4 separate regions of the Homo sapiens genome follow, and all the other regions are linked to region 3. Evidence: fine-mapped expression QTL. A gene starts in region 3. Each other region holds a variant in brackets. All regions are shown on one strand. Distances are from middle to middle. Region 1 holds the start of LIMASI (lncRNA inflammatory and mucous response associated, antisense to ICAM1). Region 2 holds the start of ZGLP1 (zinc finger GATA like protein 1). Region 3 holds the start of ICAM3 (intercellular adhesion molecule 3). Region 4 has its middle 5.2 kb from the start of QTRT1.

Evidence for each region.
Region 1: its variant is fine-mapped to the expression of ICAM3 in whole blood (TOPMed, PIP 0.94).
Region 2: its variant is fine-mapped to the expression of ICAM3 in whole blood (INTERVAL, PIP above 0.99).
Region 4: its variant is fine-mapped to the expression of ICAM3 in whole blood (INTERVAL, PIP above 0.99).

The regions. Positions count from the first base shown.
Region 1 is chr19:10,276,531-10,284,464 of GRCh38, reverse strand. ICAM1 (intercellular adhesion molecule 1) reads right to left here. Exons shown (of 7, transcript NM_000201.3): 3 at 679-984; 4 at 145-432; 5 at 1-62. LIMASI (lncRNA inflammatory and mucous response associated, antisense to ICAM1) reads left to right here and starts at 1,015. Exons shown (of 4, transcript XR_007067138.1): 1 at 1,015-1,144. The variant C/T (reference allele first, on the strand shown) is at 3,957.
Region 2 is chr19:10,309,449-10,316,815 of GRCh38, reverse strand. ZGLP1 (zinc finger GATA like protein 1) reads left to right here and starts at 7,001. Exons shown (of 5, transcript NM_001409033.1): 1 at 7,001-7,367. The coding sequence starts at 7,331. FDX2 (ferredoxin 2) reads left to right here and starts at 801. Exons shown (of 5, transcript NM_001397406.1): 1 at 801-964; 2 at 1,057-1,111; 3 at 1,324-1,430; 4 at 5,876-5,963; 5 at 6,174-6,771. The coding sequence starts at 820. The coding sequence ends at 6,330. It overlaps FDX2-ZGLP1 (FDX2-ZGLP1 readthrough), which reads left to right and starts at 801. Exons shown (of 9, transcript NR_176052.1): 1 at 801-964; 2 at 1,057-1,111; 3 at 1,263-1,430; 4 at 5,876-5,963; 5 at 6,174-7,367. It overlaps RAVER1 (ribonucleoprotein, PTB binding 1), which reads left to right. Exons shown (of 13, transcript NM_133452.3): 13 at 1-604. RefSeq lists a silencer at 1,047-1,166. The variant AAAT/T (reference allele first, on the strand shown) is at 4,947.
Region 3 is chr19:10,336,599-10,344,532 of GRCh38, reverse strand. ICAM3 (intercellular adhesion molecule 3) reads left to right here and starts at 4,909. Exons shown (of 7, transcript NM_002162.5): 1 at 4,909-4,994; 2 at 5,585-5,851. The coding sequence starts at 4,919. RefSeq lists enhancers at 3,311-4,058, 4,059-4,806, 4,900-4,949, 5,170-5,269, 5,555-6,303.
Region 4 is chr19:10,692,462-10,700,068 of GRCh38, reverse strand. No RefSeq gene overlaps it. Among named protein-coding and RNA genes, the nearest start is that of QTRT1, 5.2 kb to the left of the region's middle. RefSeq lists a silencer at 4,007-4,266 and enhancers at 4,223-4,722, 7,419-7,607. The variant G/T (reference allele first, on the strand shown) is at 3,633.

The DNA of each region.
Region 1 (7,934 bases), 60 kb after region 3:
TGTCACCTCGGTCCCTTCTGAGACCTCTGGCTTCGTCAGAATCACGTTGGGCGCCGGAAAGCCTGGAATAGGCACACAGTGAGCCCCGCCCCGGGTTCAGGTCACACCCCCAAGAAGCCCCACTCCGCCCCTGCCCCTTCTTACTGTAGATGGTCACTGTCTGCAGTGTCTCCTGGCTCTGGTTCCCCAGTATTACTGCACACGTCAGCCGCTGGGTGCCCTCGTCCTCTGCGGTCACACTGACTGAGGCCTTGGCCGAGAAGGAGTCGTTGCCATAGGTGACTGTGGGGTTCAACCTCTGGTCCCCCAGTGCCAGGTGGACCTGGGCCTCCGAGACTGGGAACAGCCCGTCCAGGGAACAGACCACGGTCCCCTGCGTGTCCACCTCTAGGACCCGGGGGCTGACAAGTTGTGGGGGAGTCGCTGGCAGGACTAGGGAGAGAAGAAAGGTGTGAGCAGACAGGGATGGACGTCCCGAAGCCCTTCTCTGGGGCATTTCATTCCCCCTCCTGCGAGATCCTCTTCCAGGGCCACTCAGCAGCCTAGGTCACATACGCCTAGAACACATGCACCCCTTAGCCGGGGCCACACCCATCTCAAAAGATCCTGTGGCCACAGGCACCGCATTGCAGGATACCCCACCCCCACCTTCTCCCTGCTGGCTTCTTCAATCCTCACCAAAGGTCTGGAGCTGGTAGGGGGCCGAGGTGTTCTCAAACAGCTCCAGCCCTTGGGGCCGCAGGTCCAGTTCAGTGCGGCACGAGAAATTGGCTCCATGGTGATCTCTCCTCACCAGCACCGTGGTCGTGACCTCAGCGGGCTCCCCCACAGCTGGCTCCCGTTTCAGCTCCTTCTCCCCACGGAGCAGCACCACGGTGAGGTTGGCCCGGGGTGCCCCACCCTCCACCTGGCAGCGTAGGGTAAGGTTCTTGCCCACTGGCTGCCAAGAGGGGAGGGGTGCCAGTTCCACCCGTTCTGGAGTCCCTGCAGGAAAACAGAGGTGGGGGTGTCTGGTGAAGTGGACCTTGCTGCCTGCCTAACAGACGAACTGCACCTGCCTGGGAGCCCTACCTCTTCAGTATCTCCCCCAAACACGCCCAGACACCTAAGCAGATAGGAATGTCAAGATCTTCAGTGAAAACTGGTAAGAGGGCCCCGAGTGTTTGTGAAGGGGATCAAAATATTCCTTATTCATGACAGCAGCATCTTAGAGTGAAAAGTGGAAAAGAACTTCAAAGTCTATTGCTAGGTGTCTGGTCAAATAAATTCAGCAGCCCAGTGCACTAGACTGGGCAAACAGTGGCTCGATCTTGGCTCACTGCAACCTCTGCCTCTGGGATTCAGGGGATTCTCCTGCCTCAGCCTCCTGAGTAGCTTAGATTACAGGCACACACCACCACACCAGGTTAATTTTTGTATTTTTATTTTTAATTAATTAATTAATTAAGTTTTTAGACTGAGTCTCCTTCTGTCGCCCAGGCTGGAGGGTGATGGCATGATCTTGGCTCACTGCAACCTCTGCCTCCTGGGTTCAAGCAATTCTCCTGCCTCAACCTCCTGAGTAGCTGGGATTACAGGCACGTGTCACCACACCCAGCTAATTTTTGTATTTTTAGTAGAAACGGGGTTTCAGCATGTTGCCCAGGCTGGTCTCGAATTCCTGACCTCAAGTGATCTGCCCACCCCGGCCTCCCAAAGTGCTGGGATTACAGGTGAAAGTAAATGAGCCTGGCCTAGACATTCTTTAAAAAACAAAACAAAACAAAAAAAAAAACCTGTTGGCCAGGTGTGATGGCTCAGGCTGTAATCCTAGCACTTTGTGAGGCCAAGGCAAGAGGGTCACTTGAGGCCAGGAGTTCAAGACAAGCCTGGGCAACATAGGGAGACCCCCATCTCTAAGAAAAATTAAAAAAAGGTTGGCAGGGCGCGGTGGCTCACGCCTTTAATCCCAGCACTTTGGGAGGCCAAGGAGGGTGGATCCACGAAGTCAGGAGTTCGAGATAAGCCTGACCAACAGAGTGAAACCCCGTCTCTATTAAAAATACAAAAATTAGTCTGGCATGGTGGTGCACGCCTGTAGTCTCAGCTACTCGGGAGGCTGAGGCAGGAGAATCTCTTGAACCTGGGAGGTGGAGGTTGCAGTGAGCTGAGATCGTGCCACTGCACTCCAGCCTAGGTGACAGAGCGAGACTCCATCTCAAAATAAATGAATGAATGAATGAATGAATGGTTAACTGGGTGTGGTGGTGCACACCTGTAGTCCCTGCTACTTGGGAGGCTGAGGCAGGAGGATCACTTGAGCCCAGGAGTTTAAGGCTATAGTGAACTGTGATCATGCCACTGTACTTTAGCCTGGGAAAGAAAGACCCTGTTTCTATTAAAAAAAAAAAAAAGTCAGTAATGACAGAGTCTAATAACAAAAAGGCTGCGTGTGGTGGCTCACGCCTGTAATCCCAACACTTTGGGGGGCCGAGGCAGGCGGATCACCTGAGGTCAGGAGTTCAAGACCAGCCTGGCCAATATAGTGAAACCCCGTCTCTACCTAAAAATACAAAAATTAGCCAGGCGTGGTGTTGTGTGCCTGTAGTCCCAGCTACTTGAGAGGCTGAGGTTTACTTGTGAGGAAAGGATTACTTCAGCCCAGGAGGCAGAGATTGCAGTGAACTGAGATCGCGCCACTGTACTCTAGACTGAGTGACAGAGTGAGAGTCTCTCTCAGAGGAAAAAAAAAAAAAAAAAAAAAGCATCAGGACCGGGGGGGTCCTGCATTTGATACCCAGCCTTGCTTCTTTGCTGTGGGTAAGTGACTTTGTCTCTCTGAACCTCAGTTTCCTGAACTGTAAAATAGGGCTATTAAAGGTAGGAGAATTCACTTAAGAGGTAGACAGAGTCGCTGTACATAAGCAGGAGGTTTCTTTTTTAGAGTGATTGAAATATTTTAAAATTAGATTGTAGTCATGGTTGTTTGTACAGAAGTCATTGAATTATGTGCTTAAAAGGGATGAATCTTATGGTATTCTAAATCGTATCTCAAGAAAGCAAGGCTGGGGCATGGTGGCTCACATCTGTAATCCCAGTACTTTGGGATGCCAAGGCGGGGTCATTTGAGGCCAGGAGTTCAAGGCTAGCTTGGGCAACATTGCAAGACCTCATTTCTCCAAAAAAAAAAAAAAAAATTAAAAACAAGCTGGGCTTCGGCATGGCGTGGTGGCTTATGCCTGTAATCCCAGCACTTTGGGAGGCCAGAACAGATGGATCACCGGAAGTCAGGAGTTCAAGACCAGCCTGGCCAGGCCAGACATGGTGGCTCACGCCTGTAATCCCAGCACTTTGGGAGGCCAAGGCGGGCGGATCACGAGGTCAGGAGATCAAGACCATCCTGGCTAACACGGTGAAACCCCGTCTCTACTAAAAATACAAAAAATTAGCCAGGCGTGGTGGTGGGCGCCTGTAGTCCCAGCTACTCAGGAGGCTAAGGCAGGAGGATGGAGTGAACCCGGGAGGCGGAGCTTGCAGTGAGCCCAGATCGAACCACTGCACTCCTGCCTGGGCGACAGAGTGAGACTCTGTCTCAAAAAAAAAAAAAAAAAAAAAAAGGCCGGGCACGGTGGCTCATGCCTGTAATCTCAGCACTTTGGGAGGCCGAGGCAGGTGGATCATCTGAGGTTGGGAGTTCGAGACCAGCCTGACCAACATGGAGAAACCCTGTCTTTACTAAAAATACAAAATTAGCCTTGTGTGGTGTCGCATGCCTGTAATCCCAGCTACTCAGGTGGCTGAGGCAAGAGAATAGCTTGATCCTGGGGGTCGGAGGTTGTGGTGAGCTAAGATCCTGCCATTGCACTTCAGCCTGGGCAATAAGAGCGAAACTCCGGTCTCAAACAAACAAACAAAAAACACCAAAGAAAAAAAAAAAACCAGCTGGGCTTCCTGCTGGCTCACACCTGTAGTCCCTG[C/T]TACTCAGGAGGCTAAGGGTGGGAGGAGGATTTCTTGAGCCTGGGAGTTTGAGGCTGCAGTCAGCTACGATTGTACCACTGCACTCCAGCCTGGGTGACAAAGTGAGACCCTGAGACCCTGTCTCTAAAAATAAAACAGAAAGCTGTTAAGCTGTTAAAAACAAAAACAAAAAAATATATATATATATAGTCAAGAAAACTCTGACCTCCAGCTCTTCTCTCTTACCACCTCCTATAGACTCTTGCAGAACTTGAGGTACCCTCAAACCTCAGCCCCTAGAGGAAACCCAGCTCAGCTGCCTGGTGCAGCGGGGAGGAAGTCTGTCCTGCTCTCACCTCTTCTTGACCCTGACCTGCAGTCCTTTACCAAATCCTGGTCACTGAAGTATTCAAATACTTGTCTGTCCTTCCCTTCTTGAATACGGTCACTGCCCACAACATGGGCCGCGTGGACAAGGACCATAGCCAACTGCTCATTGGCTTCCAGTAAATCCAGCCTTCAGCTATCTAATCCCTGGCCTGCTCAGAAACCCTCCATGACTCCCTATCACCCCAAGAAGGAAAGTCCCAGCTCCTCCACCTGGCATTCAAGGCTCTGCCAACCTCACCCTTCCTCCCATCAATCAATTTTTTTTTTTTTTTTAGGGGCAGTGTCTCTCTCTGTCACCTGGGCTGGAATGCAGTGGTGCAATCATAGCTGACTGTAACCTCAAATTCCTGGGCTTGACCAGGCTCAGTGGCTCACACCTATAATCCCAGCACTTTGGGAAACTGAGGCAGGAGGATCTCTTGCGGTCAGGCGTTCAAGACCAGCCTGGCTAACATGGTAAACCCTATCTCTACTAAAAATACAAAAAAATTAGCTGGGCATGATGGTGGGCACCTTAATCCCAGCAACTCGGGAGGCTCAGGCAGCAGAATCGGTTGAACCCAGGAGGTGGAGGAGGCTGCAGTGAGCCAAGATGGCACCACTGCACTCCAGCCTGGGCCACAGAGTGAGACTCCATCTCAAAAAAACAAAAACAAAAACAAAAAAATTCCTGGGTTCAAGTGATCCTCCCACTTGAGCCTCCAGAGTAGTTGAGAATACAAGCATATGCCACTGTACCCTAATTTTTTTATTTTTTCTTAGAGACAGGGTCTCGCTATGTTGCCCAGGCTGGTCTCGAACTCCTGGGCTCAAACAATCCTCTTGCTTTGGCCTCCCAAAGCACTGGGATTACAGGTGTGAGCCACTGCACCTGGCCTACACCAACCTACCTCCTCCTCCTCCTGCCTCCATCAAGATTTCTCCCTGCTCCCAACTTTTGCCCAGGCTGTTCCTCCTGCCCAGAATGCCTGTCCTTATGAACTCCTACACATCCTTCAAAGCCCAGCTAGTGGTCGCCTCCTCTAGGAATTACACCTCTAACCTTTTTGGAGAAGATTGAGCCATCCAGGGAGGCTTCTTTATGTTTACACCAGGGGTGGGGCAAGACCAAGCTAGAGTCTCTCTCAGGTACCACCCTCCCACATAACTTTTACTCCTTTGCTACCTGTGCCAGCCATCTGCTCCATTTCACAGAGGTAAAAACTAAGGCAAAGTGGGGCACCCACAGTCATAGAGGGAGAAATGTGGCAGAGCCAGGTCTCAAACCTGGAGTTCTATGCTCTCAGCTATCAGGCAGAGCCGCGCGTGGTGGCTCAAGCCTGTAATCCCAGCACTTCGGGAGGCTGAGGCGGGTGGATCACCAGAGGTCTAGAGTTCGAGACCAGCCTGGCCAACTTGGCGAAACCCTGTCTCTACTAAAAATACAAAAATTAGCCAGGCGTGGTGCCAGGTGCCTGTAATCCCAGCTACTGGAGAGGATGAGGCAGGAGAACTGCTTGAACCCGGGAGATGGAGGTTGCAGTGATCCAGCCTGGGCGACAGAGCAAGACTGTGTGTCAAAAAAAAGAAAAAAAAAAAAAAAAAAAAAAAGACCTATCAGGCAGAGATGCAGAAAAGACCTTCAAAGAGGTTTCCCTGGGGTTTCCAGAAGCTGCTGGGAATGTTCGGGGACTTCCCTCACCTGGGAAGGTCAGCATCTGCTCACCCACCCTCCAAATCAGAAGCAAAGCTGATCATTTGATCATTTACCCAGAGGCTTCCTTGCCCTGACACAATGATAGGAGAACATCCTTTGTCACTCACCGTGTCATTTTCCCCATCAGAGGAGGTCTCACCTGATTGCAAAGTAAATGCAGAAGTCATGTCCCAAGCTATTAAAGGCCTTGCTGGGACTGGAACCCAAGGCTAATCCCAAAGCTACTTGGCCAGTTTTTATTTTTTAGAGACAGGGTCTTTCTCTGTCACCCAGGCTGGAGTGCAGTGGTGTCATCACGGCTCACTACAGCCTGGACCTCCCAGGCTCAGGTGATCCTCCCACCTCAGCCTCCTGAGTAGCTGGGACTACTAGTATGCCAGCACGCTTGGTTAGGTTTTTTATTTTTTGTAGATATGGGGTCTTGCTATGTTGCCCAGGCTGGTGTCCAACTCCTGGCCTCCAAGCGATCCTTCTACTTCGGCCTTCTAAATCACTGGGATTATAGGCATGAGCCACGTGCCTAGCCTGCCCAGTGCTCTTCTGTTTTTTCTTCTTTGATTTTGTTTTGTTTTCATTTGAATTCCTTATTTTGGCCTTGATAACTCTTTCCCACCATTCGAAGTCCCCAAAGTAGGAAGGACGCAAAGAGAAATTCTCGGCTGGGGGCAGTGGCTCACGCCTGTAATCCCAGCACTTTGGGAGGCCGAGGCGGGCAGATCACAAGGTCAGGAGATCAAGACCAGCCTGGCCAACATGATGAAATCCCGTCTCTACTAAAAATACAAAAATTAGCCGGGCGTGGTGCTGGGCGCCTGTAATTCCAGCTACTTGGGAGGCTGAGGCAGGAGAATTGCTTGAACCCGGGAGGGAGAGGTTGCAGTGAGCTGAGATTACACCATTGCACTCCAGGCTGGGGACACAGCAAAACTCCATCTCAAAAAGACAACAACAAAAAAAGAATTCTCAGCCAGGCAAAGTGGCTCACGTTGTAATCCCAGCACTTTGGGAGGCCGAGGCGGGCGGATCACCTGAGGTCAGAGTTCAAGACCAGCCTGACCAACATGGAGAAACCCTGTCTCTACTAAAAATACAAAATTTGCCAGGCGTAGTGGCCCATGCCTGTAATCCCAGCTAGTCGGGAGGCTGAGGCCGGAGAATCACTTAAACTCAGGAGGTGAAGGTTGCGGTGAGCTGAGATCGTGCCATTGCACTCCAGCCTGGGCAACAAGAGTGAAACTCTGTCTCAAAAAAAGGAAAAAACAAAAAGAATTCTCCACACCCAAGCCCTCTCCCACAGCCTCCCAGCCTCTCTTCTCATAGCCAGCTAATATTGTCATTTCTCCCACTTCCTTTTAGGGCTATTTTATACATAAATACAGCCTCCCCGAAACTGCCCTTCCCTAATGTGAGGGTGGCATACCACTCATATTCAACATACCTTCTTTTATTTCTTTTTTTTTTTTTTTTGAGATGGAGTTTTGCTCTTGTTGCCCAAGCTGGAGTGCAGTGGCGCAATCTCAGCTCACCGCAACCTCTGCCTCCCAGTTTCAAGAGATTCTCCTGCCTCAGCCTCCCGAGTAGCTGGGATTACAGGTATGTGCCACTATGCCTGGCTAGTTTTTTTTGTATTTTTAATAGAGACGGGGTTTCTCCATGGTGGTCAGGCTGGTCTCGAACTCCTGACCTCAAGTGATCCGCCTCCCTCAGCCTCCCAAAGTGCTGGGATTACAGGCGTGAGCCACCGTGCCCAGCCCATGACATTTTGAGAACTGATGCCCAATTTCCCGCCACAGGGTTGGGCTTATTTATGCTCCCAACAGCACTGTCCTAGGACCTCCTACGTTCCAATAGCCTTGGCAGCACAGCTGTTATCAATTCTTTTTTTTTTTTTTTTTTTTGAGATGGAGTCTTG
Region 2 (7,367 bases), 27 kb after region 3:
CCCTTCTGATGCCTTAAAAGCTGGGCCCCAGGCCCTGCTGGCCAGAGCCACAGATGCCAAGCTCTGGGAGCTTGACTATGGACCAAACAGCTCTGGCCTAGGGATTGGGCCACCCTACCCAGGATCTCCACCCTGGGGACAGTAGAAGGGGAAAGCCTTCATCTTGGCGAACCGGCCCCACCACCCCCTCCTACCCGGGCCTCCGTGCAGAGATGGGCTTTCTCTGCCAGTCCCCTGCTGTCTGTCTGTGGGAGTCGGACATTGTGCCCATCTCCCGGAGCCTCTGCTGTCACTCGCTTGTTGAAGATGAATTCTTGAATTCTGCCTGCCCACCCCCGGCCAGATCCCTGGAGCTGGCCTCCTTCCAGCCCAGTGCCAGAAACCAGCACTCCATGAAGATAAACTCTGGGCCCGCCCACCAGCAGGACCTGTCGACCTGAGGTGACCCTGGGCCTTGCCCCCAGCCAACTGGGCCACCAGCTTCCCTCCCTTGACTCTGGGGGTCCACATCCACTCCAAGGGGACTATTCCCCCGACCCCACCCCAGTCTCCCCACACGGACCTTTGCTGAATTAAAGTTTGTAAGTAAATGGTTTTAAAGAAATCAGAGTTGGCTGGTTCTTGGGACAAACAGTGGGCTTGAGTGGGAGGTCTGGGATGGCCCCGCGGGTTTACCTGAGATGGATTCCGCCCTGCTCTTCCCACCTGGTCACCGCAGGCCCTAAGCAAACATCTGCGCTTATGTTCCATTGATTATGGGCTTTCCCTCGCCTCCCTGGCGCGGCGCATGCTCAGTCGGTGAGTCACGTGATGCATGTCATGGCCGCCTCCATGGCCCGGGGAGGCGTGAGTGCCAGGGTTCTACTGCAGGCTGCCAGGGGCACCTGGTGGAACAGACCTGGGGGCACTTCCGGGTCGGGGGAGGGGGTGGCGCTGGGGACAACCAGAAAGTTTCAAGCGACAGGTACCTGGGGCGCCCGGGGCGGGCAGCGTTAATCCGTCAGATGCCGGCGGGGCGGGGCTCGGCGCAGCCGCTCACCGAACCGTGTTTTCCAGGCTCGCGCCCGGCTGGAGAGGAGGACGCGGGCGGCCCGGAGCGGCCCGGGGACGTGTGAGTGCAGGGGGCCAAGTCCCCCATTCCTCATCCCACGGAATTCCTCTGGTCCCCATCTTGCCCTGTAGCTTCATCTCGAGGTCCCCCTTCTGCTTTGCCCTATTCAGTACCTGTGCGTCAAGCCTCAATTCCTACTTCCTAACCCTAGATTCTACCCGGGCCCTGAGCCCATCATCCAGTTCGGCATTCGCACTTCCATCTGTCCCCAGGGTGAACGTGGTGTTCGTAGACCGCTCAGGCCAGCGGATCCCAGTGAGTGGCAGAGTCGGGGACAATGTTCTTCACCTGGCCCAGCGCCACGGGGTGGACCTGGAAGGTAGGAACCGGGCAGAGGGAATTAAGGAGGTCCTTATACATTTGTCCAAAAAAAAAAAAAAAAAAACCCACAAATTAGGTGTGTCTCTTCACGTCTTTTTCCCACCAAATATGGACTAAAATCCAAACCCCTCACCATGGCCTCATCTGTTGCCAAGCTCTTATTTGTTAAGCATTTATTAGAGATCACTAGGACTCCTGGCTCCCAGGATTTTGTGTTCTCTTCCCCCTTCCTCCCTGTATTCTAGCCACATTGGCTTTCTTTTTGTTGTTGTTGTTTTGAGATGGAGTTTCACTCTTGTTGCCCAGGCTGGAGTGCAATGGCTTACTGCACCTCAGCTCACTGCAACCTCCACCTCCCGGGTTCAAGCGTTTCTCCTGCCCCAGCCTCCAGACTAGCTGGGATTACAGGCGCCCACCACCAAGCCCAGCTAATTTTTGTATTTTTAGTAGAGACGGGGTTTCACCACATTGGCCAGGCTGGTCTCAAACTCCTGAAAGGTGATCCACCCGCCTCAGCCTCCCAAAATGCTGGGATTACAGGCATGAGCCACCGCGCCCAGCCCACACTGGCTTTCTTGTGGTTCCTCAAACAACCAAGCTCATTCCTGCTTCGGGGCCTTTACATTTGCTGTTCCCTCTGTCTGAAGTGCTTTCCCAGCAAACATTCTGGCTCTTTCTCATCCTTCAGACCTCAGTGTAAATGTCATGTCCCTAACAATCCCATTCCCCTCAGCCCAGCTGAAGTACCCATGCCCTAGTTACTCTGTCTTATCAGTGTGATATGATATATAGCACTTCTCACTTTTTTTTTTTCAAGAGACGGAGCCTTGCTGTGTCGCCAATGCTGGAGTGCCATGATGCAATCATACCTCACTGCAGCCTTGAACTCCTGGGTTCAAGTGATCCTCCCACCTCAGCCTCCCAAGTAGCTGGGATTATAGGCACAAGCCACAATGCCAGGCTGTTTTGTTTCCTACTTTGTCATCTGTCCCCCAGTGAGATTGGTGACCCATGTCCTTATTCATGCTTATCTGTTGCCTGTCAAGATGTAACAGATGTTTGATAATTTGTTGAGAGAAAAATAATAATAGAAATTTCTTGTCCAGGCACAGTGGCTCATGCCTGTAATCCCAACACTTTGGGAGGCCGAGGCAGGCGACTCACTTGAGGACAGGAGTTTGAGACTAGTCTGGCCAACATGGCGAAACCCTGTCTCTACAAGAAACACAAAAATTAGCTGGGCGTGGTGGCACATGCATATAATCCCAGCTACTTGGGAGGCTGAGGCACAAGAATCACTTGAACTTGGGAGGCAGAGGTTGCAGTGAGCCAAGATGGCACCACTGCACTCCAGGCTGCATGACAGAGCGGGACTCTGTCTCAAACAAACAAAAAAAAAAGGCCAGGCGCGGTGGCTCACGCCTGTAATCCCAGCACTTTGGGAGGCCGAGGCGGGCGGATCACGAGGTCAGGAGATAGAGACCATCCTGGCTAAAATGGTGAAACCCCGTCTCTAATAAAAATACAAAAAATTAGGTGGGCGTGGTGGTGGGCGCCTGTAGTCCCAGCTACTCGGGAGGCTGAGGCAGGAGAATGGCATGAACCCGGGAGGTGGAGCTTGCAGTGAGCCAAGATCACGCCACTGCACTCCAGCCTGGGCGACAGAGTGAGACTGTCTCAAAAAAAAAAAAAAAAAAAAAAAAAAAAAAAAATATATATATATATATATATATGTCTTTAACCATGTTAATAAATATTCACTGACTGAATCTTCATGACAACTTGAGTAGTAGAGACTGTTATTCCCTATTATAGATGAGGCAACTAAACCCCAGGTTAAGTAGACCTGGTCTAAGGGCAAGTGAGTGACAATACTAGACTCACCAGTCCATTGTAGCCACTAATCTGTGCTGCCTTTCTATGAATACCTACTGCGCGTCAGGCAGCAATATACAAAACAAATAAGGCCTCTGTCATCTCACATCCATTTCGGTCTAATAGGGACAATAATCCCACAGGTAAATACATAATTATGACCAACTTGGGAAGGGTTGTCTGGAAGAAAATATATAGGGTTTGCTTTTGGGATGAATATATCAGGGATCCTGATTTTATCATTAAAGGGGAAGATATGTTGGGAGGGGTTATGAAAGGCCTACCTAAAGTTCTGTTCTGGAATCCAGCAGCCAATAGTCTAGGACAGGGATTGGAATGTGAGATAGATTTATTTGTTCATTTATTTATCTGAGACAGAGTCTCGCTCTATCACCCAGGCTGGACTGCAATGGCATGATCTTGGCTTACTGCAACCTCTACCTCCAGGGTTCAAGTGATTCTCCTGCCTTAGCCTCCCGAGTAGCTGGGATTACAGGCAACTGCCACCATGCCCGGCTAAGTTTTTGTATTTTTAATAGAGATGGGGTTTCGCCATGTTGGCCAGGGTGGTCTCAAACTCCTGACCACAGTTGATCTGCCTGCCTTGGCCTCCCAAAGTGCTGGGATTACAGACATGAGCCACTGTGCCGGGCTAGTAGAGGTAAGTGGCCTGGCAAGGTGTGGTGGCTCACGCCTGTAATCCCAGCACTTTGGGAGGCTGAGGCGAGCGGATCACGAGGTCAGGAGATCAAGACCATCCTGGCTAACATGGTGAAACCCTGTCTCTACTAAAAATACAAAAACAAAATTAGCCAGGCATGGTGGCAGGCGCCTGTAGTCCCAGCTGCTCTGGGAGGCGGAGGCAGGAGAATGGCGTGAATCCGGGAAGCGGAGCTTGTAGTGAGCCGAGATCACGCCACTGCAGTCCAGCCTGGGCAACAGAGCGGGACTCCATCTCTAAGAAAAAAATTACAAAGGAAAACAAAGGAATGAATGAGGGGGATGGGGGAACTGCAAGACTAAGTGAAGGAGTTTGGATTTTATTCTGAGTGTGAAAACCCTTTGGAAAGTTTTAGGCCAGGAGGGACATGATCCCCAAGCACCGGTCTCTGTGATCAGAGGATGTGGGGGTGTGACCAAGGGCAGGTGGTCAGCAGAAAACTTCAGGTTCTGTCTCTTTCAACCCTAATTCCTGGTCTGGTGCAGTGGCATATGCCTGTAGTCCCAGCATTTTGGGAAGCCAAGGCAGGCAGATTGCTTGAGCTTAGGAGTTTGAGACCAGCCTGGGCCACATGGTGAACCTCGTCTCTACAAAAAAAAAAAAAAAAAAAAAAAATATGGCCAGGTGCGGTGGCTCACACCTGTAATCCCAGCACTTAGGGAGGCCGAGATAGGTGGATCACCTGAGGTCAGGAGTTCAAGACCAGCCTGGCCAGCATGGCAAAACCCCATCTCTACTAAAAATACAAAATTAGCTGGGCGTGATGGTGGGCACCTGTAATCCCAGCTACTTGGGAGGCTGAGGCAGGAGAATCACTTGAACCTGGGAGGCAGAGGTTGCATTGAGCCGAGATCATACCATTGCACTCCAGCCTGGGCAAAGAGAGCGAAACTCCACCTCAAAAAAAAAAAAAAAAAA[AAAT/T]TAGCCAGGTGTGGTGGTGCGCACATGTAGTCCCAGCTACTCGGGAGGCTGGGGTGGGAGGATCGCTTGAGCCGGGAGGTTGAGGCAGTAAGCTATGACTGAGCCATGGCACTCCAGGCTGGGCAACAGAGTGAGACCCTGTCTCAAAAAAAAAAAAAAAAAATCCTGGCCGGGTGCAGTGGCTTACGCCTGTAATCCCAGCACTTTGGGAAGCTGAGGCGGGCAGATCATGAGGTCAGGAGATCAAGACCATCCTGGCTAACATGGTGAAACCCCAGCTCTACTAAAAAAATATAAAAAAATTAGCCAGGCGTGGTGGCAGGCACCTGTAGTCCCAGCTACTTGGGAGGCTGAGGCAGGAGAATGGCGTGAACCCGGGAGGCAGAGCTTGCAGTGAGCCGAGATCGTGCCACTGCACTCCAGCCTGGGCAACAGAACAAGACTCCATCTCAAAAAAAAAAAAAACAAAATCCTAATGCCTGATTCCTTCCCCCACCACACTGACTGCTGAGTCAGCCGGTCCATCCTCCAAGAGCAGTGGAGAGGTGGGGACACATTAGCCCAGCACAGTGATAGGGTCACAGCAAGGGCTCACAGACTGCGGGGAGCCTGCCTGGCCTTTCCCCTCTCAGCTACCTGGCAGCCAAGTCCCTGCTCCTTAATGGTTCTGCATCTCAGCCTGCTAGGGAGTCCCTGGGAAATGGGGCCTCCCAGATGTCCGTTTGTAAACCCTACACACTGGGGAACAGCTAGCTGAGGACATTGAGGACATGACACAGTGCCTGGTACACACAGTGGAGCTGCAGGCCCAGGAGGGAGACGTGAGGCACGTGGTGGAAGAGAGGTCTACTCCTCTACGCCATTCGCATAGCAGCCCCTTCCTGACTCTGCCACTCACCTGCGCCCCCTTCACTTCCCACCCCTAGGGGCCTGTGAAGCCTCCCTGGCCTGCTCCACCTGCCATGTGTATGTGAGTGAAGACCACCTGGATCTCCTGCCTCCTCCCGAGGAGAGGTGAGTGGGTCAGCCCTGTCTAGCTGGCAGCTTCACCCTGGAGCATTCAGCAGCCCCCACCATCCTCCCCACTTCCAGTTCCTGGAATGGGAGCTGCCTCCCCCACCACTACCCCCTGCGCTCAGTCAGCTTCCTCCCTCCCCCACCTCTGGCCCCCCACCCACCCAGCTAGCTTGCCCTCGGCTAACACTGCCCGTGTCACCACCCTAGGGAAGACGACATGCTAGACATGGCCCCCCTCCTCCAGGAGAACTCGCGGCTGGGCTGCCAGATTGTGCTGACACCGGAGCTGGAAGGAGCGGAATTCACCCTGCCCAAGATCACCAGGAACTTCTACGTGGATGGCCATGTCCCCAAGCCCCACTGACATGAACACCTGGACCATTCCACATTGCCATGGCCCCAGGGCCCAGATTGAGGGAATAGCCAGGTGCCAGCCCTGCCCAGAGTGCGGACAGGCCCGGGAGAGACGTGGAAGCCCCTGTGAAGGACAACACCCCTGCTTGGGAGAGAGTCCCATGTCCAGGCTCTGGTGGGGACAGGGCCCCTAGTGGGGTGGCCTTCCCCAGGCCCCTGAGAATCAGGGTTTGAGTAGGAGTGGACTCATATTGGAGCTGCAATAAATCGATAACACAGGCCCCAGCATGTTGAGTGTCCTTGGGGGACAGATCTGGGGTCTACAGGTGGCTCACACCTGTAATCCTAGCACTTTGGGAAGCCAAGATGGGAGGATCACTTGAGGCCAGGAGCTTAAGACCATCCTGGGCAACATGGCGAGACCTCGTCTCTATAAAAACAGTAAAAATTAGCGTGGAGTGGTGGTAAGTGCCTGTAGTCCCAGCTACTCGGGAGACTGAGGTGGGAGGATCACTTGAGCCCAGGGGATTTAGGCTGCAGTGGAGCGGTGATCAGGCCATTCCACTCCAGCCTGGGTGACAGAGTGAGGCCCTGTCTCAAAAAAAAAAAAAACAAAAACAAAAACAAACCACACCTGCATCTGCTGTGCTGGGCCCCCGGTTCTCTTTTCCCTCTGGGATCTAAGATGCCGCTGGGGATCCAAGGCAGAGGCCTGGGAGCCCCCATTTCCGAGGGGGAGGGCTAGCGTGGAAGGCCCCGCCCCGGCAGCTGCGGAGGGATTTGGTGGGGTCCAGGCCGCCCTTGCCACGCAGGGGTGCGCGGATGACCTGAAAAAAGCCAGAAAGAGGAAAGGTGCCGCCGAGGCTGGTCGCTCTCAGCTGGGGCTCATCGCATCCTCTACCAAGAGCGCTCCCACCACACAGGTCCCGCCCCTCCCAGGTGGGTTTCATCGGGTGGGCCCAGCGGGACAGGGCCGGGTGAAATTAGGGAGGGGGCTGGGCTGGGGCGCAATGGAGGCCGAGCCAATCCCGGACTCCTCAATGCCAG
Region 3 (7,934 bases):
CATCCGCTTCAGCCTCCCAAAGTCCTGGGATTATAGGCATGAGCCACCGCACCTGGCTCGTCTTATTATTTCTATACATAATATATGCTCTTTTGGCTGGGCGTGGTAGCTCAAGCCTGGTGGCAGACGCCTGTAATCCCAGCTACTTGGGAGGCTGAGGCAGGAGAATCGCTTGGACCTGGAAGGCAGAGGTTGCAGTGAGCCAAGACTGAACCACCTCACTCCAGCCTGGGCAACAGAGTGAGAACCCATCTCAAAAAATACTGATAATAATAAGATCATCTTCAGAACTCAGTTCCTGGTGCATGAAGAGATTCAATACAGCCCCCTCACTCTCAGTTCTTAGAAAGAAGAATATGCCAGCCTGACCAACATGGTGAAACCCCCGTCTCTAATAAAAATACAAAAATTAGCTGGGTGTGGTGGCGCACGCCTGTGATCCCAGCTACTCAGGAGGCTGAGGCAGGAGAATCGCTTGAACCTGGGAGGTGGAGATTGCAGTGAGCCCAGCCTGGGAGACAGAGCAAGACTCATTCTCAAAAAAAAAAAAAGAAGAAGAATATGAAAGAGATAGGATCAATAACTACCTTCATTGTTTAATAGCCTAAGAGTGAAAGCCCAGCACAGTGGCTCACCCCTGTAATAATCCCAGCACTTTGGGAGGTTGAGTTGGGAGGATCACTTGAGCCCAGGGGTTCGAGAACAGCCTGGGCAATATGTCAAAAGCTCCTCTGTAGAAAAAATACAAAAATTAGCCGAGTGTAGTGGCACACACCTATAGTCCCAGCTACTAGGGAGGCTGAGGTGGGAGGATCACCTGAGCCTGGGAGGTCAAGGTTGCAGTGAGCCATGATTATGTCACTGCATTCCAGCCTGGGAGACAGAGCCAGACCCTGTCTCAGGAAGAAGAAGAAAAAAAAAAAAGCCAAATCTTTTTATCCCAGGATGTCTGAAAAGGACAGAGTCTATGGAGCATGGATGCAGAAAAGTAGTTATTCCTACCAGAAAAAAAAAAAATGAAATGTGGACACAGCCACTCAAGATCAGAGACTCAACCAGTGAAAGCAATTAGCTTCAATTTCATTGTCACCAGGAGGGCGCACACCAGAGAACCTGGGAGAAAGCCTGGGCTAGAGCCCTTAGCATTCTCAGTGTTACTGGTGCTGTGGTTCAACAACCTTTGTGGGAATGAGGAGAACCAGAGACCATCACCATCACACGTAAAAAGGATCCTATAGCAACAATGTGGCTGTCAAAAATCAGCTGGAGGCCAGGCGCGGTGGCTCACGCCTGTAATCCTAGCACTTTGGGAGGCCGAGGCGGGCGGATCACCTGAGGTCAGGAGTTTGAGACTAGCCTGGTCAACATGGTGAAACCCCGTCTCTACTAAAAATGCAAAAAATTAGCTGGGTGTGGTGGTGCATGCCTGTAATCCCAGCTACTTGGGAAGTTGAGGCGGGAGAATCACTTGAACCTGGGAGGCAGAGGTTGCAGTGAGCCCAGACTATGCCACTGCACTCCAGCCTGGGTGACAGACTGAGACCCTGTCTCAAAAAAAAAAAAAAAATCAGCTGGAGCTTAAATTATACATTGTTTGCAATCCAGACTGTACTTGCTTTCTTGTCAATGGCTTGAGATATGTGCAGAGGCCCCTTAAACATGTGTAGGTGACCTTTCTCTGTCGCCCAGGCTGGAGTGCAGGGGCACAATCTCAGCTAACTGCAACCTCCACTTCCCGGGCTCAAGCAATCCTCCCGCTGCAGCCTCCTGAGTAGCTGGGACTACAGGTGTGTGCCATCAAGCTTGGCTGATTTTTTTGTACTTTTTTTTTTTTTTTCGAGATGGAGTCTCGCTCTGTCGCCCAGGCTGGAGTGCAGTGGCGCAATCTCAGCTCACTGCAAGCTCTGCCTCCCGGGTTCACACTATTCTCCTGCCTCAGCCTCCCAAGTAGCTGGTACTACAGGCGCCCGCCACCATGCCCAGCTAATTTTTGTATTTTTTTTAGTAGAGACGGGGTTTCACCGTGTTAGCCAGGATGGTCTCGATCTCCTGACCTCGTGATCCGCCCGCCTCGGCCTCCCAAAGTGCTGGGATTACAGGCGTGAGCCACTGCACCTGGCCGATTTTTTGTATTTTTAGTAGAGACAGGGTTTTGGCATGCTGCCCAGGCTGGTCTGGAACTCCCGACCTCAAGGGATCCGCCTGTCTAGGCCTCCCAAAGTGTTAAGATTACAGGTGTGAGCCACCACGCCTGGCCCAGAAATACTCTTTTTTTTTTTTTTTGAGATGGAGTCTCACTCTGTTGCCCAGCCTGGATGGAGTGCAGTGGCGCGATCTCGGCTCACTGCAAGCTCCGCCTTCTGGGTTCACGCCATTCTCCTGCCTCAGCCTCCCGAGTAGCTGGGACTACAGGCACCTGCCACCATTTTTTTTTGTATTTTTAGTAGAGACGGGGCTAATTTTTTTTTGTATTTTTAGTAGAGATGGGGTTTCACCGTGTTAACCAGGATGGTCTCGATCTCCTTACCTCGTGATCTGCCCGCCTCAGCCTCCCAAAGTGCTAGGATTACAGGCGTGAGCTACCACACCTGGCCCAGAAATACTTCTTTATCAGAAATATTACTGGCGGGTGTAGCAGGGCACGCCTATAATCCCAGCACTTTGGGAGGTCGAGGCAGGCAGATCCCTTAAGCTTAGGAGTTCAAGACCAACCTGGGCAATATGGTGAAAGCCGTCTCTACAGAAAATTAGCCAGGCACAGTGGTGTGTACCTGTGGTCTCAGCTCCTAGGGAGGCTGAGGTGGGAGGATCACTTGAACCCAGGAGGCTGAGATTGCAGTTAGCTGAGATTGTGCCCCTGCACTCCAGCCTAGGCGACACGGTGAGACTCTGTTTCAAAAAACAAAAAAGAAATATGACTTATTTACAAATATTTCTTTCTTTTTTATTTTTAGAGACAGGGTCTCACTATTACGTAAGTATTATAAATTATATATATATGTTTGTTTGTTTGTTTGTTTTTCTGAGACAGAGTCTTGCTCTGTCACCCAGGCTGGAGTGCAGCGGCACAATCTCCACTCACTGCAACCTCCGCCTCTTGGGTTCAAGTGATTCTCCTGCCTCAGCCTCCTGAGTAACTGGGACTACAGGTGCCCGCCACAATGCCCAGCTAATTTTTTATATTTTTGGTGGAGATGGGGTTTCACTGTGTTAGCCAGGATGGTCTCGATTTCCTGACCTCGTCATCCACCTACCTCAGCCTCCCAAAGTGCTGCTAGGATTACAGACGTGAGCCAGTAAGTCCGACATCTTTTTTTTTTTTTTTTTTTTTTGTGGAAACAGGGTCTCACTGTGTCTCCCAGGCTGGAGTGCAGGGGCACAATCTCGACTCACTGCAGCTTTGACCTCCCAGGCTCAAGCGATCCTCTCACCTCAGCCTTCCAAGGAGCTGGGACTACAGGCACCAGGCCCATGCTACTGGTCCCTGCTGTTTACAAATACACTAGACTTGGGTTTTAGCTGCTCTCTCAACACCAGGTGGGAAATGGATTGTTCGGAAGGTAGAGGAATAGAGGAGGGACCTGCTTAGGAAGGTGGGGGTGCTCTAGATGAGAGAGGAGGTGCTGTGACCTCAAGGTCTGGGGAAAGTGGGTGAGTGCAGGGCCCCATCAAGGCTCTCAACAAGGCCTCTCTCTCTGGAGCTCAGATGTGAAGCCCAGAAGGCAGGTCAGAGGCCTGAGGTCAGAGGCAGGTCAAAGGTGGGGGTCCCACCTGGTCCCCTTGGCGCCTTCCCTTGGAATGCAGTGACCAGCTGCCTGGAAGGGTGGGCAAGGGGACAACAGGATGGGGTAAAGGCCAGTTACAAGTAGAATCCTGGAAGGCCGGGCGCAGTGGCTCACGCCTGTAATCCCAACACTTTGGGAGGCCAAGGCGGGCAGCTCACTTGAGGTCAGAAGTTTGAGACCAGCTTGGCCAACATGGTGAAACCCCGTCTCTACCAAAAAGTACAAAAATTAGCCGGGCGTGGTGGCACATGCCTGTAATCCCAGCTACTCGGGAGGCTGAGGCAGGAAAATCGTTTGAACCCGGGAGGCAGAGGCTGCAGTGAGCCGAGATCCCGCCACTGCACTCCAACCTGGGTGACAGAGTGAGACTCTGTCTCAAAACAAACAAACAAAAACCAAGTAGAATCCTGGATAGACAGTGGCTCAGGGACTCAGCTGTCCCCAAATCACCTACCTTAGCTCTTTGTGCAGGGGATGGGGGATCCCCAAGATCTTCAAAGATAGGGAGGTATCCTCAAGATCTTCAAAGGTGGCCAGGCGTGGTGGCTCACGCCTGTAATCGCAACACTTTGGGAGGTCAAGATGAGAGGAGGCCATCTTAAGGCCAGGAGTTCAAGACCAGTCGGGGCAACATAGCAAGACTCTGCTTCTGTTTCTGTTTTTGTTTTTGTTTTTTAATGTTTCCTCGAAATCCCACCTTAACATCTACACAATGGTGCCTACAGTTTTCCCCATTAACTTCCTCTCTGGGGACAGAATATTCCCCTACCCACCTAAGTTCAGCCAGAAGGAGATGCCTCATCCCCCCCACCCAGGCTTCCCAGTGCTGAGAACAAAAGAAACCAGTTTAGTTAGCATTTCCTGTGAATTCAAATGGGGGCCAGCAGTGCAACTGGGACCAGCCCATTCCCTGGGGGAGACTCAGCAGTGCTGGCCACTTTGCAGAGCCCCGTCTGGGTCCCCCACCCTGGCCCCCAAGGGCCACAGCATCCCCTTCCACCCACAGGCCTGGGCAAGGTGCAGTCCCCAGACTTCTGCAATCTTAACCGCTGTGCTTCCGTCGCAGTGGGAGGCCCCGCCTTTTCCCCTGCCTGCCCTTCGGGCACCTCAGGAAGGCACCTTCCTCTGTCAGAATGGCCACCATGGTACCATCCGTGTTGTGGCCCAGGGCCTGCTGGACTCTGCTGGTCTGCTGTCTGCTGACCCCAGGTGAGACCAGTCAAGCCGGGGAGGGCTGGAGAGGGCTGCGTTTTGGGGATCAGTAGAGGGTAGAGGAATAGAACGCAACGCTGTTCACATCCTGCCACACTGCGACCTGGCCGCTGACTCTGTATCCTCGGGAGAAAGTTCTGGTTCCTTAGTTCAGCCTTCAGGTGGTCAGGCCCCAGCATAGGCTTGTACGCCATCCCTCTCCCCTAACACACACACACACACCCCTCATGCTTCCTGCTCCATCTGAACTCCTGAAATTTGCCCTTTGCGTATGTGCTTCCCTCTGCCAGGATCACCTGTCCCTTTCACTTGCTAACTCCTACTTAGCCTTCAGTTTCGGGCTGCAATGGTCCCCGCTTCCAGGAAGCCTTCCCTGACTCACCTCCTCCTATGCTGGATCAGAGCCTCTTCTGGCCTCCTTCTGAGTTCTCCCCGGTCTCTGATGGATTCTACCTTTCCCACTGGACCATGAAGGCAGGAACCCTTCTGTCTCGGCACAAGGAGAGAGGTGTTAAATGGTGGGGCCTGTTGATGCGTGGGTTGGGGGACAAGGAAACAAACACCAGGACTTCTTCATGTTCCTGAAGGTGTCCAGGGGCAGGAGTTCCTTTTGCGGGTGGAGCCCCAGAACCCTGTGCTCTCTGCTGGAGGGTCCCTGTTTGTGAACTGCAGTACTGATTGTCCCAGCTCTGAGAAAATCGCCTTGGAGACGTCCCTATCAAAGGAGCTGGTGGCCAGTGGCATGGGCTGGGCAGCCTTCAATCTCAGCAACGTGACTGGCAACAGTCGGATCCTCTGCTCAGTGTACTGCAATGGCTCTCAGATAACAGGCTCCTCTAACATCACCGTGTACAGTGAGTCGACGTGTCCGGAGGTGGGACTGGTCTTGGGTAGTGGTGTGGGCAAGTGGCCAATGGCTCAGGAGAGTGGGGACCCTCAGTTTGCAAAGAATGGACCACAGTTCTGACCCAGAGCTCAGACCTGGACATTTGTGTGTGAGATACAAAGATAGACAGAGACAGAGACACAGAGACAGAGACAGAGATATAGAGACGCATCTCAATCTCATGCCAAGGCAGCAGTTGTGAAATCAATTAACTTGGGCCCCAACAAGCATTTTTTTTTTTTTTTTGAGACAGAGTTTCGCTCTTTTTGCCTAGGCTGGAGTGCAGTGGCACGATGTCGGCTCACTGCAACCTTCGCCTCCTGGGTTCAAGTGATTCTCCTGCCTCAGCCTCCCGAGTGGCTGAGATTACACATGCACGCCACCACACCCAGCAAATTTTGTATTTTTAGTTGAGATGGCATTTCACCATGTTGGCCAGTCTGGTCTTGAACTCCTGACCTCAGGCGATCCGCCCACCTCAGCCTCCCAAAGTGCTGGGATTACAGGCATGGGCCACTGCGCCCGGCCCCAACAAGCTTTTTTTTTTTTTTGAGATGGCGTCTCTTACTCTGTAGCCCAGGCTGGAGTGCAGTGGTGCAATCTCGGCTCACTGCGACCTCTGCCTCCCAGGTCCAGCTAATGCCCAGCTAAGTTTTGTATTTTTAGTAGAGACGGGGTGTTCCGCCCACATCAGCCTCTCAAAGTGCTGGGATTACAAGTGTGAGCCACTGCGCCTGGCCCCAACAATAATCCCAACACTTTGGGAGGCCAAGGCAGGAGGATTGCTTGAGTCCGGAAATTTAAGACCAGGCAGAGCAATATAGGGACACCCCGTCTCTACAAAAATAAATAAAAAATATTAGCTGGGCATGGTGGCACATGCCTGAAGTCCCAGCTACTTGGGGGACCAAGGTGGGAGAATCGCTTGAGCCCAGGAGTTCAAGGCTGTAGTGAGCTATAATTGCACCACTGCACTCCAGCCTGTGCAAAAAAGCAAGACCCTTGTCTCTTAAGCAAAAAAGGGGGTACCCCTTTCAGTCAGCAGTAGGCAAATGGAGGTTTTACATTTACACTTTTTTATACCTTTATTTTAGAGACAGGATCTCCCTATGTTGCCTAGGTTGGTCTCAAACTCCTGGGCTCAGGCAATCCTCCCACTTCAGTCTCTCCAGTAGCTGGGATTGCAGGCCTGGCTACTTTTTTTTTTCTTTTCTTTTCTTTTTTTTTTTTTTTGAGACAGAGTCTCACTCTGTCCCCCAGGCTAGAGTGCAGTGGCGCAATCTTGGCTCACTGCAACCTCTGCCTTCCGGGTTCAAGCGATTCTCCTGCCTCAGCCTCCTGAGTAGCTGGGATTACAGGCGCATGCCAACACGCCCAGCTAATTTTTGTATTTTTAGTAGGGACAGGATTTCACCATGTTGCCCAGGCTGGTCTCAAACTCCTGGCCTCAAATGATCTGCCCGCCTTGGCCTCCCAAAGTGCTGGGATTATAAGCGTGAGCCACCATGCCTGGCCTACTTTTTGACTTTTCTTTTCTTTGAGACGCAGTCTTGCTATTGTCCCCCATGCTGGAGTACAATGGCGCGATGTCAGCTCATTGCAACCTCCGCCTCCTGGGTTCAAGTGATTCTCCTGTCTTAGCCTCCTTAGTAGCTGGGATTACAGGCGTGTGACACCATGCCCGGCTAATTTTTGTATTTTTAGTAGAGACAGGGTTTTGCCATATGGGCCAGGTTGGTCTCAAACTCCTGACCTCAAGTGATCCGCCTCCCTCGGCCTCCCAAAGTGGTGGGATTACAGGCATGAGTCACCTTGCCCAGCCTTTTTTTTTTTTTTTTTTTTTTTGACATAGAGTCTCTCTCTGTCGCCAGGCTGGAGTGCAGTGGCACTATCTCAGCTCACTGCAAATTTTGCCTCCTGGGTTCAAGCGATTCTTGTGCCTCAGCCTCCTGAGTAGCTGGGATTACAGGCACGTGCTACCATGCCTGGCTAATTTTTGTATTTTTAGTAGAGATGGGGTTTCACCATGTTGGCAAGGCTGGTCTTGAACT
Region 4 (7,607 bases), 360 kb before region 3:
CTGTACACCAGGCTGGGCAACAGAGTGAGACCGAAACCCTAAAAAAAAAGATAATAATAATATACAATATTATATAGTAATTGTTATCATTACAACTGGATCTGATATCTGTCCTGGCCAGCAGAGAGCGCTATTGTCCCAGAAGATGTCCTTTCAATTGTCTTAAACTGAGCTACTCTGGCCAAGAGGGTGTCTAAGGGAGCCTCAAGCCCCCTATCCTGTAAGAAAGGCTAAGGATGCCGGTTGCCCAGATGGTGGGGCATCCTTAGTAAGGCCACACCCGGAAAACCCGCCTGGAAAACACCCCTGCCCACCAGCAAGCCAACCTCAGGGCCTTTGCACCTGCCTTTGTCTACAACACTCATCCTTTCTTTTCTATTTCTTTTCTTTCTTTTCTTTTCTTCTTTTTTTTTTTTGAGACAGAATCTCACTCTGTTGCCCAGGCTGGAGTGTAGTGGCACAGTCTCAGCTCACTGCAACCTCCGCCTCTCAGGTTCAAGCGATTCTCCTACGTCAGCCTCCCAAGCAACCGGGATTACAGGTGCCTGCTGCCACACCCGGCTAATTTTTTTTTTATTTTTGAGATGGAGTCTTGCTCTGCTTCCCAGGCTGGAGTGCAGTGGCACAATCTCTGCTCACTGAAAGCTCTGCCTGCCAGGTCCACGCCATTTTCCTGCCTCAGCCTCCTGAGTAGCTGGGACTACAGGCGCCTGCCACCACGCCCAGCTAATTTTTTGTATTTTTAGTAGAGACCGGTGTTCACCATGTTAGCCAGGATGGTCTTGATCTCCTGACCTGGTGATCCACCTGCCTTGGCCTCCCAAAGTGCTGGGATTACAGGCGTGAGCCACCGCACTCGGCCGTTTTTTGTTTTTTTTTTTTTTGAGACGGAGTTTTGCTCTTGTTGCCCAGGCTGGAGAGTGCAATAGTGCAATCTTGGCTCACTACAACCTCCACCTCCTGGGTTCAAGTGATTCTCCTGCCTCAGCCTCCTGAGTAGCTGGGATTACAGGCATACGCCACCACGCCTGGCTAATTTTTTTGTATTTTTAGTAGCGACAGGGTTTCTCCATATTGGCCAGTCTGGTCTCGAACTCCTGACCTCAGGTGATCCTCCCACCTTGGCCTCCCAAAGTGCTGGGATTACAGGTGTGAGCCACCGCGTCCGGCTAATTTTTGTTTTTAGTAGAGATAAGGTTTCACCATGATGGCCAGGCTGGTCTCAAACTCCTGACCTCAAGCGATCCACCCATCTAGGCCTCCCAAAGTGCTAGGATACAGGTGTGAGCCACCGTGCCCAGCTAATATTTCTATTTTTCAAAATGTTTACCAGGCGCAGTGGCTCACGCCTGTAATTCCAGCACTTTGGGAGGCCAAGGTGGGTGGATCATATGAGCCCACGAGTTAGAGACCAGCCTGGGCAACATGGCAAAAAAAAAAAAAAAAAAAAAGTTAAAAAATTACCCATAATTCCAGTTACTTGGGAGACTGAAGCAGGAGGATTGCCACAGCGCCTGGCCAATATGTGTTTAAGTCTGCTTCTTGCCAAGCTTTCTGTGTTATTCTGATGCCCACTCGTTTCAGAACCACTGTTTTTCACTCTTGGCTGCACATAGAATTACCTGTGGAGTTTTTAACTATCTCTATGCCCAGACAACTTAAACTAAAATCTATGGTGAGTAGCTTATGTACTTTGGGACGATGAAGTAGGAGGATTGCTTGAGGCCAGAAATTAGAGTCGCCCAGGCTAGGGTGCAATGGTGCGATCTCGGCTCACTGCAACCTCCACCTCCCGGGTTCAAGAAATTCTCCTGCCTCAGCCTCCTAAAGTAGCTGGGATTACAGGCGCCCACCACCATGCCCAGCTAATTTTTTGTATTTTTAGTAGAGACAGGGTTTTGCAATGTTGGCCAGGTTGGTCTCGAACTCCTGACCTCAGGTGATCCACCTGCCTCAGTCTCCCAAAGTGCTGGGGTTACAGGTGTGATCCACTGCACCTGGCCGATCATCTCTTAAAAAAAAAAATCTATGGGGATGAGACTCAGTCATCAATTTTCTTTTGTTTTTTGTTTTAAGCCTCAAGGAATTTCTGTGTGCAGCCAATGTTGCCTCTCAGTGGTTTAGGTTCCAAAAACAGCATTTCATTATCTTATCCAAAGTGAGTCTCTTTCTTTTCTGGGTGACCTTATCTTGGAGCTCTGACCTGCCTGCAATTCTTGGTTATCCAAAGCTTCTGGGATGTTGGAGGGAATCCTCTGCATTTTAGAATGCAATCACCATGATTGGATGAATGGCTGATTGGATTAAGGGTTGCCTGGATTTGCTGTTCTGAAGCTAGTATAGCCCCTTCTTTTCTTGGCCACCTAACACCTGACCCCGCTCATACACCCCTGCATTGAGAGAATGTCATATTTTTTAAGGCTAAGCCTGCCTTTCCATAGAAGTTATAATTGACAGTTACTTTCCCAGCCTGCCCTGCAGCCAGGCTGCACAAGGCTCAGGTTCTGCCATTCACAATTTGGATCAAAAGCCAGTGGTGGTGGCCGGGCACAGTGGCTCACACTTGTAATCCCAGCACTTTGGGAGGCTGAGGCGGGCGGATCACCTGAGGTCGGGAGTTTGAGACCAGCCTGGCCAACATGGAGAAACCCCATCTCTACTAAAAATACAAAATTAGCCGGGCATGGTGGCATATACCTATAATCCCAGATACTAAGGAGGCTGAGGAAGGAGAATTGGTTGAACCTGGGAGATGGAGGTTGTGGTGATCCGAGATCGTGCCATTGCACTCCAGCCTGGGCAAGAAGAGTGAAACTCCGTCTCAAAAAAAAAAAAAAAAAGAAAAAGAAAAAGAAAAAAGCCAATGATAAGGAGAAACAGGCCCTTGGGCTCGAAAACACTAGGGACAGGAGTTGGAGGCAGCTACATCCATGTCACAGAGATTCATGAAAATAAGAACAGTTTATGTCAAAACTGAAGCTACACTCAGGAAGTTTATAGGTGGTTGCACATCTGGTCTCCAGCCACAGTAATCCTTGTAGCATCAACTACAGTCTCTGTACTTAGTCATTGTGAGATTGGGCTATGTGTGGGGTTGGCGTTGGGGTACCACCACTAGCTGTGTAGCCCCTGATGCTGGTTCTCTGCCCCTCCTGGAGATCACTGTGCCACCTGACATTCTTCATTACACACTTTTCAAGCATAGACAAACGGACAGAGAATTGCATAGTTATCACCTTGTAACCAATGACCCAGCTTCAACAATTATCAAAAGAGGCTTAATCCACCCACTTAAACAAATATATTCTAGTCCGGATGCAGTGGCTCACGCCTGTAATTCCAGCACCTTGGGAGGCTGAGGCAGGTAGATCGCTTGAGCCCAGGAGTTGGAGACCAGCCTGGGCAACACGGCGAAAACCTCTGCTGTACTAAAAATACAAAAATTATACGGGCGCAGTGCTGCACACCTGTAGTCCCAGCTACTCGGGAGGCTGAGGCAGGAGGATAGCTTGAGCCCGGGAGGTGGAAGCTGCAGTGAGCTATGATCGCACCACTGCACTCCAGCCTGGGCAACAGAGCAAGATCCTGTCTCGAAAAAACTAAAAATAAAATTATATACATACATACATATA[G/T]AGAGAGGTCAATGTGTTCAGTAGGACAGGATAGTCAGGGCTGGGCTCACTGAGACGGTGGGATTTGAGCCTGAAAGGAGGATGGAGGAGTCATGCGGAATCGGAGAGAGCACTCCAGGCCTCGTGAACAGTTAAGAGCAAAGGCCTGGAGGTGGGAATGTGTCTGGATTGTCTGTTGTGAGCGCGGAGGTCAGTGTGGCTGGAGGTGAGCGGATGAGGGTGTGGAGGTGACGGCATGAAATCGCGGGAAGCCTTGGGCTTTCCTCTGAGCTGGATGGGACGGTAGGGCTTTCTCAGCCAACGTGGAGGGAAGTGGGCTCTACCTATTACCAAGAGATAAACTGGGGATAGGGCGCAAAGGAGGCTTAGTGGTCCCTGCTTTAGGGTGTTGGCACCGCCCACTTAGGAGAGCTGGGGGCGCCGTGAGCCTGCAGCTAGAGGCGGCGCTTGGTGTGCGGCTTCAGCACAGTGGACAGCGCCGTACGCGTTGCCTGGAGACCAGGAAAGCGGCCGCTCAGGGAGCGGAGCCTGCGCAAGCGCCCTATGAGGAGCGGCGCGCTCCACGCAGTGGCACACTCTGTGGGGGCGGGGCCTGCGAGTCCGGCCAATTAGAAGAGTTTGTTGCCGGGCGTGGTGGCGCTTGCCTGTAATCCCAGCTACTCAGGAGGCTAAGGCGGGAGAATTGTTTGAACCAGGGAATCAGAGGTTGCAGTGAGTGAGCGGAGATCGCGCCACTGCACTCCAGCCTGGGCGACAGCGAGACTCCGTCTCCAAAAAAAAATTTTGTTGACAACCCCAGGACGAAGAGAGTTTATACACAGGGCAGGGCCTGCGAAATCCCATCTGGAGTTGGAGCTTGTTGATTGCGCAAAGGAAGGAAGGAAGGGGCGGTGGGCACCCGGAGCCTAGAGACCGGCGGGAAGTTTGGAAGCGGTGGTTTGCAGCAGCTAGGCCTGGGGCGGTTTCCGCGCTCTTCACATGGAGGCTTGCGCAGCACCCAGGGTCGTGACTGGGGCTGTCAGATCCCGAAACTTGCCTTCTCTGGGATCGCCCGCGACTGCTCAGGGGAGCCCCCAAACAGGGGACTATATGGTTGGCCTTAGGGAGCGGGTGCTGAGGTCCTGGGTCCAGGATACGGACTTCTGAGCACTGACTGAGGAATACAGAACATTCAGGAGAGGAGAGTTAGGGGTTTTGCTGAAATAATGGTCCTTGGAGCCCTGAGTTCGGGTGGTCGTCTCGATAGCCTGGAGGATTTCTCCAGTTTATTCATCGGACGTGTGGGGACCGTCCCTCTGTGACATTGCCACCCACCTACTGCCCTGTTGCCAAGCAAGAAGACCTTAGGCGCCAGATCTTTTGAGAAGACAAAAGCACTGGCCCAAGACCTGGGAGTTCATGGACTTCTTGGCTACTCCGTGGAGAGAATGCTGGTCTCCCTGAGAATGAGAAGGACGGGCCCCTTTTCTTTGACATACCGTTTTTAACCCTCTTGAGTCTAGAAACTCTTCCCTTATCAAGACCAGTGGACTCAGCTGCAAAAATCACTGTAAACCTCAGCTCCGATGTTCCAAAAGTCAAGCCTCTTGTCGTCTCCAGGGCCCCCATTCTCACCTCTCCCATACACCTACTCAGCTCAGCAACCAAAAGAACTGTACTGAGGCGCGGTGGCTCACAATGGTTAATTCCAACAGTTCGTGAGGCTGAAGAGGGGATGGCTTGAGGCCAAGAATTGGACATCAACCTGAGACCCTGCCCCTATGAAGAAAAACAAACATTAGCCAGGCAGTGAGGCCTGTAGTCCTAGATACTCAGGAGGATGAGTGAGCCATGATGGCACCACTGCATACCAGACCGAGACCCTGTCTAAAAAATAGTTTCAGCTGGGAGCGGTGGCTCACGCCTGCAATCCCAACAATTTGGGAGGCTGAGGCAGGCGAATCACAAGGTCAAGAGTTCAAGACCAGCCTGGCCAACATGGTGAAACCCCATCTCTACTAAAAATCCAAAAATTAGCCAGGCATAATGCTGGGCACCTGTAATCTCAGCTACTCGGGAGGATGAGGCAGGAGAGTAACTTGAACCCGGGATGCGGAGGTTGCAGTGGGCCGAGATCACTCCAGTGCACTCCAGCCTGGGCAACAGAGCGAGAGACTATCTCAAAAACAAAACAAAACAAACAAAAAAACTGTAGGCCAGGCGCCGTGTGGCTCACGCCTGTAATACCAGCACTTTGGGAGGCCAAGACGAGTGGATCACGAGGTCAAGAGTTTGAGACCAGCCTGGCCAGCAAGGTGGAACTAAAATACAAAAATACTAAATACTAAATACTAAAAATACTAAATACTAAAAATACAAAAAATTGGCTGGGCGCGGTGGCTCACTCCTGCAATCCCAGCACTTTGGGAGGCCGAGGCAGGCGGATCATGAGGTCAGGAGATCGAGACCATCCTGGCTAACACGTGAAACCCCGTCTCTACTAAAAATACAATTAGCCGGACGTGGTGACAGGCACCTGTAGTCCCAGCTAATCGGAAGGCTGAGGCAGGAGAATGGCGTGAACCCGGGAGACGGAGCTTGCAGTGAGCGGTATCATGCCACTGCACTCCAGTCTGGGCGACAGTGAGACTCCGTCTCAAAAAAAAAAAAAGCCGGACATGGTGGTGCATACCTGTAATCCCAGCTACTAGGGAGGTTGAGTCAGGACAATCACTTGAACCCAGAAAGCGGAGGTTGCAGTAAGCGGAGATCATGCCACTGCACTCTAGCCTGGGTGATAGGGCAAGACTCTGTCTCAAACAAAAGTTAGCTGGGCATGGTGTCACACACCTGTAGTTACCGCTTCTCGGGAGGCTGAGGCAGGAGAATTGCTTGAACCTGGGAAGCGGAGGTTGCAGTGCGCCGAGATTGCTCCACTGCACTCCAGCCTGGCGACAGAGCAAGACTCCATCTTAAAAAATAAACAGCCAGGTGCGGTGGCTCACACCTGTCATCCCAGCACTGGGAGGCCGAGGCAGATGGATCACCTGAGGCCGGGAGTTCGAGACCAGCCTAACATGGAGAAAACTTGTCTCTACCAAAAATACAAAATTAGCCAGGCTTGGTGGCACATGCCTGTAATTCCAGCTACTGAGGAGGCTGAGGCAGGAGACTCGCTTGAACCCGGGAGACGGAGGTTGTGGTTAGCAGAGATCGTGCCATTGCACTCCAGCCTAGGCAACAGGAGCGAAACTCCATCTCTAAATAAGTAAAATAAATAAACAAATATATACTCTTGGGAGCCTGAATGGGCCTGAAGTCTTCCCAGGTCAGAATCCATCCATGGCTCCCCACTGTCCTTAGAAAGAAGGCAAGAACTCCTGTGCCTGGCACTCCACTTGGGGGCCCTCAAGATCCCACTGACCTCCAGCCTCATTTCCCAGCATTCCTTTGTTTTGCATCAAAATGCTCTACCCACCTGACTTCAGCTTCTTGAAGCCCATCCTCATCCCCCAGCTGAATTTTTGCTCAAGCTATTCCCTCTGCCTGGCCTCCCCTTCCCTTCCTAACACTCTTGGGTCCAACTCACCCATCCTCTCACCTGAGGGGAAAGCCTTGACAGGCACTTCCTGTCCCACTGTGACACAGCCCTCTTTGTGCCTGGAAGCTACATGTGGGTTGGGAGCAGGTTCACCATTTCGTTCCCAGCAACCAGCACCAGACTTGACATGTAATCACTGTGCAATAATAAACACGACAGCAGGGCACAGTGGCGCTGCCTGTCATCCCAGCTACTATAGGGAAGCTGAGTTGCTTAAGGCCAGGAGTTCAAGACTAGGCTTGGCGACCCACCTCTACAAGAAAATTAGTCAGTCATGGAGGCACAGCCCTGTGGTCCCAGCTACTCCAGAGGCTGTGACGGGAGGATCGCTTGAGCTCTCGGGTTCAAGACTGCAGTGAGCTACGATGATACCACTGCACTTCAGCTTGGATGAC